Linked DNA regions of Homo sapiens. The protein of the gene in region 2 interacts with the protein of the main gene of each other region in a pairwise test. Each region holds a gene or a part of one and is shown on either strand. Other genes may lie near its edges.

Region 1 (3,659 bases), on a different chromosome or scaffold from region 2:
GAGTTACACATTTAACGTTAAAAAGTTCCAGTTTTCCAAAGTAGTGGTACTATTTTACATGACTAGCAAGTTTATGAATCTAGCTGCTTCACATCCTTGCTAACATTTCATGCTGTCAGGCTTTTAAATTGTGCAGTTCTGGAAGAACTAGTGTTTCATATGGATTTAATCTGCATTCCTCTGATCATAAATGAGGCCATTCACATAACTCCTTTTGTAAAGTGTTTATTCACATCTTTTGCTCCTCCTGCCCTTTTTTTGAGATTACAGCAGGATATGCCCATTATTTTTCATTGAATCATTTACCTTTTACTAGTGATTTGTGAGCGATTTTAAAAAAAGTATATTCTGGAAATAAGTCCTTTACAGATATATGTAATGAGAATATTTTGTCCTAGTCTATGGTTTGCCCATTTTCTTAATGGTTTCTTTGATGAACAAAAAGATGATTAATTTTGATGAAGTCCAGTTTGTCAATTTTTTTCCCTTATTAGTTACTTTTTGTGACCCTCTAGAGGAAATATTTGCCTGTCACAAAATAAAGATTATATTTCCCTATGTTTTCTTCTAAAAGCGTCAGAGATTTATCTTTTATGTCTAGGTACACAATCCATCTCAAATCAATATTTTTGTGTATGGTGTCAGCTAAGTTAGGTTCGTTTTTTTTCCTACACAGATCATCCAGTTGTTTCAGCACAAGTTCTTGAAGACTTTCCCCATTGAATTGCTTTGGCACTTTTGTTAAAAGGGAGAAAAAAGACTAACTGTATGTATGTGGGTCTACTTCTGGACTCTCTATCCTGTGCCATCAATATATTTGTATGTTTTTAAACCATTACCACACTGTCTTGATGAATATATAATAGCTTTGAATTAGTGTGAGCCCTCCAACTGATCCTCCTTTTTTAAAATTTTGAATCAATTTGTCACTTTCCAGAAAAAAACCTTTTAAGATGTTCATTGATACTGAATTGGATCTACAGATCTATTTCAGGAGAACTGACACAATCTTCATTTCTTCGTTTTTTAAGATATGAATAATTCTTTATCCCCTCTCTTGGGATACCTTTTAGAAAACAGTAGAGAACAAAAATTCCAAGCTAGAAATTTTGTTGTCCTTATTTGATAAAACTTTTTTAAAGCTTGTGGCAATGCCAGATTCAAGATACTAGAAAGAAGAAAATCAAAGTGGGCCATTTGCACTAGCTTTCACACAAGTAGTGTTTCTCTATTATAAAATGTTTTGCTAATGAGTATTAGGCCAAGGAGAAATGTTTTCCTTAAAAAGCACGTAAGAGACACCTCAATTTCCATACCTTTCTGTTATCCTAATAGTCTTTCAACATGAGGGAAAATAAATGCAATTTAATTTTAAAAGAAATCCTAAAAATTAAAGGTTAATTTGCTTGTAAAAAATTAGCAGCAATCAATTTAATTTGAGACTTACATTCTTGCTTAACAACAAATAAAATTCTGAGGTAAAATTGCCACACATTTGGATGAATTCCAGAAAATTCAATATACCTAATTTGCAATATATAATCCATCACACAGAGAAAAAAAATGCCTCAAATATTTATGGCAAGGTTTTTAAAAATGATCCTGAAGTACAAATACTATGTTTACTTATTTATATAGGGAATGTCTCTGGAAGGATACTAAAAAAAAGAAAAAAAAACCTGGTAATGAATGTCTCTGTGGAAATGCATAGGGACTGGTGGTTGGGGAGAAAGAGGACTTCTCACTATTATACTGTCTTGTACTGTTTGAAGTTTCATAAAGCCAGGTACATGTTATATACATATACATATACATACACATATACATAGAATCCTAAATTATGATAATCTTCAGAAATAATCTTCCCCTAAAGTCTAGGAAGAATAATTCAACTGAGAAAAAAATGAGAAAACCAAAAATTAAGTTACACTGAAATAATGTTCATTATGTAAATGTATGCTGAATTTAAAAGTTTAGTTTATCATACTAAAAGCTCCAATATTCTGCTTCTTACTCATTAGGTCTAAATTTTCATTTTCAGCTCAACCTTACCACAAACCTGGTATGTTTCACATTTAATCAAAGCAAGTAAGTAAAAATAGATAACCTTTAAAAATTAGTAATAAGTACATTTACAGAATAAGGCTCAACTCAAAAAATCTCTTTAAATTGTTATGACTTTAAAATATCTTTCCTGTTGAAGAATGCTGTTTGGTCAACAATTTTTTAAAGTCGATTAAATGTTCTTTGGTATGTAGATATAAATAGTAAATCAGTGAATGGATCTGTAAGTGCAGGCACACTAGCTATATGACTTTTCAACTAGTAAAGCAAAAAGGGAGACAATGTTTCAGCTTGAGTAAAATATTAATTATAATATAATAAATTTAGAGAGGTTTCTCTTTAATCATGGAACGGGAGAGAATAGAAAGTTAAACCCAAAGGTACAAAACAAAGTGTTACATACTACAAAAAATAAGTGGTAACTTTTGAATGAGATTTTAAAATATCAGGAATGTTTTACCATCATGAATTTTCTACTTTTTGCCAATTTTTCTGAAATATATTTATCCTAGTTATTGTATAGTGAAGCTGACCTTTGATAAAATGACTCAGGATGCCTATTTACGTGCCAGAGAAACAGCTTTCCCTTAGCATGGGGAAAGGCAAGAACTATTATCCAGAATCTCAAGTCAGAAACCTTGGGCAATGCCAAGTAGGACTACCTGAAAGGTCCTGGCAATCCCTGCACATCCCTTTAAAACTGAGCTGTTTTCATGGTTACCTGGTACACAGGACTTGCGGCTGCAGTCACCGAACTGGGTTTCACTTCCATTTCCTTACTTGTTTCTTCATCTGAAGAAGAGGATCCTGAATGATAATCAGAGGTAACCTTATCAAGGGCCCTGGTAACTTTCCTGGAGATCTCATCCTTGTTCTCATCTTTATTTTCAAAGCTGGCAACAATGAATGCATTGTTTTTCTCTCCATACCTAAGAATAAAATTAAAAACTTACAAATCTTGAAGTCACATCAGCAAAGCAAAAAATGTCCATAAAAACAAAGAGATCTGGACATGCCATCAATACAAGGCAAAGATTGAATCATCACAGAACTTGACCCTACACATTTAATATCCTAATACAGCTCAATGCCAGCAAGCAAACCACAGTTTTCTACTTCTGGTCTATTTAAGTATTCATAAACATAACCCCATTTTCTTTCCCTTATTTTCTTTCTACTAATTCCTAAAAAAAAAATTGTTTAAAACATCAAAAAAAGTCCATTGTTTTGATTACATTTTTGTATGTACCAATGAAATTGGTTGTACAATAAAACATTCTGATGTATTTTTATTTTTTTGAGATGGGTTTCACTCTGTTGCCCAGGCTGGAGTGCAGTGGCACAATCACAACTCACTGCAGACTCTACCTCCTGGGCTCAGGTGATCGATCCTCCAACTTCAAACCTCCCAAGAGGCTGGGACTACAGGAGTGTACCACCATGCTCAGCTAATTTATATACATTTTTAGAGACAGGGTTTCACCATGTTGCTGAGGCTGGTCCCAAACTCCTAGGCTCAAGAGATCCACCCACTTCAGCTACCCAAAGTGCTAGAATTACAGGCATGCGCCACTGGCTGATTTTTTTTTTTTTTT
Region 2 (3,659 bases):
AGGAGGCTAATGACAGCCTCAATCTTCACTCTAAACATCAGGAAAAAAGTTAAATTATGATATTCTTTTACCAAGATATGAGTTTCTTCTGGTTTCTACTACACTGGCTTCTACTACGCAGCATTAGGCAAAGGTACTTTCCCCTTTAAAGAAGTCAAAAATGAAAAAAACAGCTAAGTCATAAAGTCAATGACTTCTAGACTGTTACAAAAATGTAGTGGGTTAAAAAAAAAAGCTCTAATCATATTACAAAGAACAAAAGAAAGAAAAAAAAATTATCCCTTCCCTAAAATGCCTTTGCAACTTAAACCACTCTCTCATCCAATCTAGTTATATTTTTCATAGCAGAGGAGCCATAACAACATGAAATCAAGTGAATAGAAACACAAAGACCTGTACAAAGCATAACCATTTCAGTGTCTTCAAAATTCATACACATACAAATGAATATGCATTGTAACACACTGTTTAAGAAGAAAATTCTCGAGAGGAAGGGAAACAGAGTTACCCTCTACTAACAGCTTATTCTGGGCCAGGCGTTATTCAGAATATATTAATATATGCATATGTTAACATACGTTAACAGTATTACAGCTCTAAATGCTACCCACATGCTTTATGACGTGCTTTTGCAATTTACAAAGGGATGAATGGGGCAAACTAGTACCTAAAAAACTCTTACTTCGTTAAATAAGCCTGAATCTGAAAGTTACGAGCACAGATATAATGATCTAAATTCCCTGTGCATTTAATTCAGCTCATCAGCAATCTTTTAACTTAGATAAAATGAAAAGGGAGGAGGAGAATAGGAATTGAAATCAACTCTTCTGTTTATGATTAGAGTTAGTCCAACCTGAAAGTACCTAGATTTCTGAGAAAGTGAATTATATCTCAAGTTCAACTATACCAACACTGTTCATTTCTATATGAACAAAAAAGATAGGGCTGCTTTTTTCTTCACTCAGGATAGAAGAATTTAAAGAAAATGATTTTGAAAATATATATATATACACACATATATATACATATATACACATATACACACACACATATATACATATATACACACATACACATATACACATATATACACATACACACATATATACATATATACACACATATATACACATATATATACACACATATATTCACATATACATACACACACACACATATATATATATGAAAATTTTGCCTATAAAATTGGAAAAGATTTTTTAAAAAGGTATGCCTCTCCCTGCTGGCAATGGTACAGAGACCATGGGAGCATGCTCAAACCCTGCAGTTGTCAAGGACACAGGTGCGACCTTCCTGTAGGATAACTTGGCAGAACAGGTGTATCAAAGCCTTAAAACACACACACCTTCTGACCCAGAAATGCCACTTCTAGTAATCCTCCCAAAGCAAATAATCAGGGACATGGACAAGAAGATCATTTCTGCATTACTTCCAGTCACAAAAAATACAAAATAATCTTAATACCAACAAGGGAATTGGTGAAATAAATTATCAAACATTACTATAATGTGCTCTTACACAGAAATTCAAAAGTATTTAAAGAAAAAGGTTATGATCAAGAGGTTCCTACTATGTAATGGGAAAGTAAGATTCAAAACAGGGTGTGCAATATACCAACTAGGTATACCAACTAGGTATACATTTTATGATCATACAGTGCACTGAAAAGTTAACAGTAGTTATTTGTAGTGGTTTTTCAGAACCTTCGACATTTTTCTATAATGACTGTTACTTTTTGAAATAGAAGTTTATATTTTTAAGCTTTGTTACTTTAAAAAAAATCAAAAATAAGAATGAAAAGTAACATGCAATAAGATCTAGATTCTCCAACCTAGAGATTATAAATGCAACATCTACCACCTTTTTACTTCTAGATTTACTGTTGATAAAAGAGTAACAAAAGTATGCCAGATGATCTAGCATAACAAGTATGCCCAGATTATCTGAACTTTTCCCAAAATGCCTCACCTCCTGAAGTGAAAGAAGCGGCAAAACACAGGTGAGTCCTTCTGTTGCTCCTTATCCTTGCGGAGACTGTCCAAGCGACACTCTCGGCATTTAGGCAACTGTGCCACGATGTTCACACAAGAATCATCCTGTACGAAGGCCTCGCCACTCTGTTGCAGCTTTTTGAGTTTAGCTGGGTCTGTCAAAACCGACTTCCTGGATGGGGCTAGGAAAACAAAAGATTAAGGAGACAGGACCTCAAATTTTTAAAAATCACATTCATATATGACTGAATTCTATTCAAAAACCCAATATTCCCTTAAAGAGAACTCCCTTCTCAATTCCTGGTTCAATTGTAATTTCTAAAAATGGCTCAACAGAAGACAACTATCAGAATAACTGGGAAAGTTTTACTCTCTTTATAAAACAATTCTTATTTGCTCAATCCATTTGGCAACATAAAACCCCAAATTAAACAGCCAGACTCACAATTCAAAGTTAATGTATACTTCTATTCACAACTCTACATTTTAGGATGTTTTCAAATCAGACATTTAATTCAAACTCGATCTCGAGGCTCACTTCTGCAGAGGCCTGACTTAGTAGATGTCCATTCTGTCACTTTCCAAATTCAAAAAAGACTGGTTTAAGGTGTGTTTTTAAAAGTACAATGCAAAAGCTAACCATTCTAAAAATAACAATAAACGAATCACTTTCCTACGTAGCCCCTGGGTCTATGGAGTTAGAGCATCTTCTAAATGCCTGTCACTTGACTCCTGACATGTCTCCCCTTCTTTCACACATGTGGTCCAAGCAGGATTAAGAGCACTGGCTACAGACAGGATTATCATTCTAAGTAAATGCAGATTTTATGTTTTAACTTGTAATAGGCCGGAGAATTTGAAATGTTAACATGGTTTCTAAAGACAAGGTAGACATGTATCAGGAAAGAGCAATCACCGTGTCAGAGAAAATAACAAAGTAAGGAATCCATTTGTATGTCAAGAGCCTTAAGGAGTATTTCATAGAAAACAGAAAAGACCTTTTCTTAGGGTCCCAGAGAGCTGAGAAGAGGGAAGTGGGTTTTTAGGCAAACAAACGAAAGTCAAAAACCAACAGCTTCTGGGGAACTAGTTGAGAGATGGGTGGGAGAGGTGAGTCTTGGAGAAAATTGGAAGATCCCAAACCAAAGAAGGTTTTAAATAAAGTAAACATCTTCAATAATTACCTTAGAGGTGATCTAATCTTACCTCTCTTTTAAAGCAGGACTAGACCACATGTAAATTTCTACATGATGCTGTTAGTCCTTGATCCCTTAAACACTCCTACTCAGTTATAGTGAAAGAGAAGGTAAAGTAAGAAAGGAGAGAAAATAAAGAGATTAGTAGTTCAAGGATGTAATTTTAATTACTCAGATATTGAAAGACATCCTTTGAGTTGAGCCAGGCTTCCACAGATCACAGGCAAGAAGGTTATCTTATCTGTTCTATCCTGGCTCACAAGAGGAAATATCTAGAAACAAGAAAGCTGAACTGTCTAAATCTAGCTCTTTACTGAGGAGAGCAACAGGTGCTACCATCAGTGATTCTCTGAATTCAAAGCCAAGTCAAGAGAAAAATGCAACGCCCACTTCCGAGGAGCCACGTATCTATCTGAACGGAAAAAAAGGCAGCTGTTTGACTCCAGTTTGC
Region 3 (3,659 bases), on a different chromosome or scaffold from region 2:
GGACTGCAGTGGTGCGATCTTGGCTTGTTCAAGCAATTCTCCTGCCTCAACCCCCCGAGTAGCTGGGATTACAGGCATGCGCCACCATGCCCAGCTAATTTTTATATGTTTAGTAGAGATGGGGTTTTGTCATGTTGGCCAGGCTGGTCTCGAACTCCTGACCTCAAGTGATCCACCCACCTTGGCCTCCCAAAGTTCTGGGATCACAGACTTGAGCCATCGTGTCCACCCATGAAACAATGTTTTGACTGCGACCTATCATATGAGGTCAGATGTTGCTATGGTTTGATATGGTTTGTTTGTCCCCACTAAATCTCACATTGAAATTTGATCCCCAATGTGGTGGTGTTGGGAGGTGGGGCTTAATGGGAGGTGTTTGGGTCATGGGGGAAGATCCCTCATGAATAGCTTGGTGCCATTCTAGAAGTGGTGAGTGGATTCCTGAGAGAGCAAGCTGTTAAAGAACCTGACTTCCTCATTTTCACTCTCCTGCATCCTGTCTCACCATGTGATTTCTCTGCATAGCTCGCTCCCCTTCTACTTTCCAACATGAGTGCAAGCGGCCTAAGGTCCTCATCAGATGCAGCTGCCCAATCCTGGACTTTCTGGCTACCAGAATTGTGAGCCAAATAAACCTCTTTTCTTTATAAATTACCTACTCTTAGGTATTTCATTATAGCAACGATAAACAGACTAACACAGGTGTGGAATTTTCCACTTGTGGCATCATGTTGGTGTTCAAAGTTTTGGACTGTGGAGGGCTTTGGATTTTTGGATTAGGGATGCTCAATCTATGTTACTTTTCTAATTCTGTAAAATGAACATACATATACATTCTTAAAAGAAATTACTAATTCAGACTAATATAAGTCTGATTGAATGCTACTAAAGAGATCTTTCTTCCTAGGCAGCAATGTTTTCCTCTCATTAATTATTATAAGAGGTAAGAACAAGGTAGCATAAATACAGTGTTAAAACTGTAATCAATGATTTGCCTACATAATACCCTGGGATATCATTTATTGTATAAAACAATGACAGGGACAGAACTCAATGTCAAACAAAGAAGCAATAATTGTGATTTGATGGGATGAACAATGAACTGAGAATCAGTACAGCTGGGTTTCAAGTTGGAGATTGACATGAGCTACCAAACAAATCCTAAAAGCTCCCTGGGCTTTAGTTTTCCTTCTATAAAAGAAGGGCTTAGACCAAATGATTTTTTCAAATTCTTCTCACATTTTGAGTTTAATATAACCTTTTTTTTTTTTTTTTTTTTTTTACCTCTTGTGGACCATGATTTACAGGTATGTTCAGAGATAATTCCATTTTCTTCTTGTCACATAGGTGAATGGCACTTGAAACACTCTGTAACTGTAATGAATACATAAATATATATACACTTTAACTGGAGATGATTAGGAAATTATAGAAGTAAAATACAATCTAACACATTTTATATGTTTGTACAAAATACATGGAAAGAAAATATAAAGAGTTGAGAATATAACATATAACTGAAGGAAAAGACAGTGTAGAACGGGAAATAACTTTAGAAACACAGACTTTGAATCCTGGCTCATATTAATTGGTTACCTTCTCTCAGTGTCTCAGAGCTTCATCCTCGAAATCTAACAATTACCTACATGCAGGATGGTTCTAGAGATTGAGCTTATAAATATGAAATATCTGGTATAAACTAGGTACTTAATAAATTTTTGGGAATTTTTGGGAGTGTGATTGTATGTCTATCTATAGTTAAGTATTTACCACATTTTAGGCACTGTGCCTGTAAGTACTATTATTATTTTCATTTTATAGTTAAGAGATTGAGGCTTGGACTAAGTAAAGGAGGTAGAGTGTCAATAATGGAATGGCAGGGCCATGGAGCCAATCAGATGTGATTTAGAGACCCACATCTGTTTGACGTGAGACATTAGATTTAATCTCAGTTTACTTATCTGTACACTGGAGATAAAAATTCCTATTTTGAAGGATTACTGTGAGGAAAATGAAAAGTAATATATGCAAAAAGGCCCAAACATTACTTGTAAGCATTCAATAAATGGTAGCTGCTGAGTAGATGATTTACTTAAATACTATTCTTTTGTGTTAAAATTAAGTGGTTTATTCCTGTCTATATAAGCTAGGCTTGGATTAGTTTCCATCACTACTCAGTGATTTAAATACAAACCTATCAATCATTTTCTTCCCCAGACCATCATAATGTCAACTACTCTTCAGAATTTGGAAAATGGTGAATTCACACCCAGCCATCCATTATGCACATTTATGACTGCATACTCCATTTACATGGCTAAGGAACTTCAGAAGGAAATTACTCTTATTCATCTGTGTATATAATGTACCTAGCACAGGGCGTTATACACAGCAGTTCAATAAACATCTATAAACATATTGTTATATGACCCTTTAAAATGAGTTTTTGGTTTTATCTCTGTTATGTGAGGTTTTCCTCTGCTTATAAAATTTGCCAAAACATTTCTGATAATGCAATATCCTTGAATTAGTAACAGTTTTTCATAACTGATCAGTTATGATAATTCAAATTACTTGTGAATTAGTGAATCTGTCCCTAAGAAGAAATGAACAACTGAAGAAAAACTATGTTTATTCAGTGTTTATTATTCAAGATTTAGAAGCCAATTACCTAGGAAAACATAAATTACGGGAGCTGATTCCAAGAGTTGAAAAAATGTAGGAAACTCAAAACAAATTTCCCTACTAATTTTGGCTTTCAGAATTTTTTTTTTTTTTTTCTTAAGAGACAGGGTCTTGGTATGTTGCCCAGGTTGGACTGGAACTCCTGGGCTCAAGAGATCCTCCTGCTTCAGCTTTCAGAGTAACTGGGACTATAGGCATGTACCATCACACCTAGCTCAGAAATTTCTTTATGAAGAATCTTATTTAATTCGTGTTCTACTGTTGTCCCTGACATTAGCTTACTGTGTGAGATGTACATAAGTGACTAACTTCCCTATACGGTAGTCCCCCTCTTATCTTGGTTTCACTTTCCGCAGTTTCCATTACCCTTGCTCAACTGTGGTTTGAAAATATTAAATGTAAAATTCTAGAAATAAACAATTCATAAGTTTTAAGTCACATGCAGTTCTAAGTAGTATGATGAACCTACAGCTCCATTCCACCCAGGATGTGAATCATCCCTTTGTCCAGCATATCCATGCTGTATAAGCTACCACCCTGTTAGTACCAGAACAACTGTCAGGATCACAGTGCTTGTACTCAAGTAACTTTTTTTTTTGAGACAGGGTCTCACTCTGTCACCCTGGCTGGAGTGCCAGCTCACTATAGCCTCTACCTCCTGGGTTCAAGTGATCCTCCTATCTCAGCCCTCAGTAGCTACGACTACAGGCATGTGCCACCACACCCAGCTATATTTTTTGTTTTGTTTTGTTATGTTTTTTTGCCACATTGCCTAGGCTGTTCAAATAACTCTTATTACTAATTAAGTCAACTCTTACTACTAATGGCCCAAAGTGCAAGAATAGTGATGCCAGAATATTGTTAGAATTGTTCTACTTTATTATCGGTTATTGTTAATATATTACTGTGCCTATCTTATAAATTAAACCTTATCATAGGTATATATGCATGGGAAAAGTAAGTATGTATGTATG

Evidence for each region.
Region 1: the proteins of KDM3A (region 2) and BTG3 interact in a two-hybrid assay, tested with the Homo sapiens proteins (one large-scale study listed by BioGRID and IntAct).
Region 3: the proteins of KDM3A (region 2) and RIPK2 interact in a two-hybrid assay, tested with the Homo sapiens proteins (one large-scale study listed by BioGRID and IntAct).

Annotation. Positions count from the first base shown.
Region 1 is NC_000021.9:17,595,832-17,599,490, forward strand, and holds part of BTG3 (protein BTG3), read right to left. Parts: intron 2,994-3,659; coding exon 2,786-2,993; intron 1-2,785. UniProt on the Homo sapiens protein: Overexpression impairs serum-induced cell cycle progression from the G0/G1 to S phase.
Region 2 is NC_000002.12:86,468,739-86,472,397, reverse strand, and holds part of KDM3A (lysine-specific demethylase 3A), read right to left. Parts: intron 2,195-3,659; coding exon 1,990-2,194; intron 1-1,989. UniProt on the Homo sapiens protein: Histone demethylase that specifically demethylates 'Lys-9' of histone H3, thereby playing a central role in histone code.
Region 3 is NC_000008.11:89,781,765-89,785,423, reverse strand, and holds part of RIPK2 (receptor-interacting serine/threonine-protein kinase 2), read right to left. Parts: intron 1,375-3,659; coding exon 1,285-1,374; intron 1-1,284.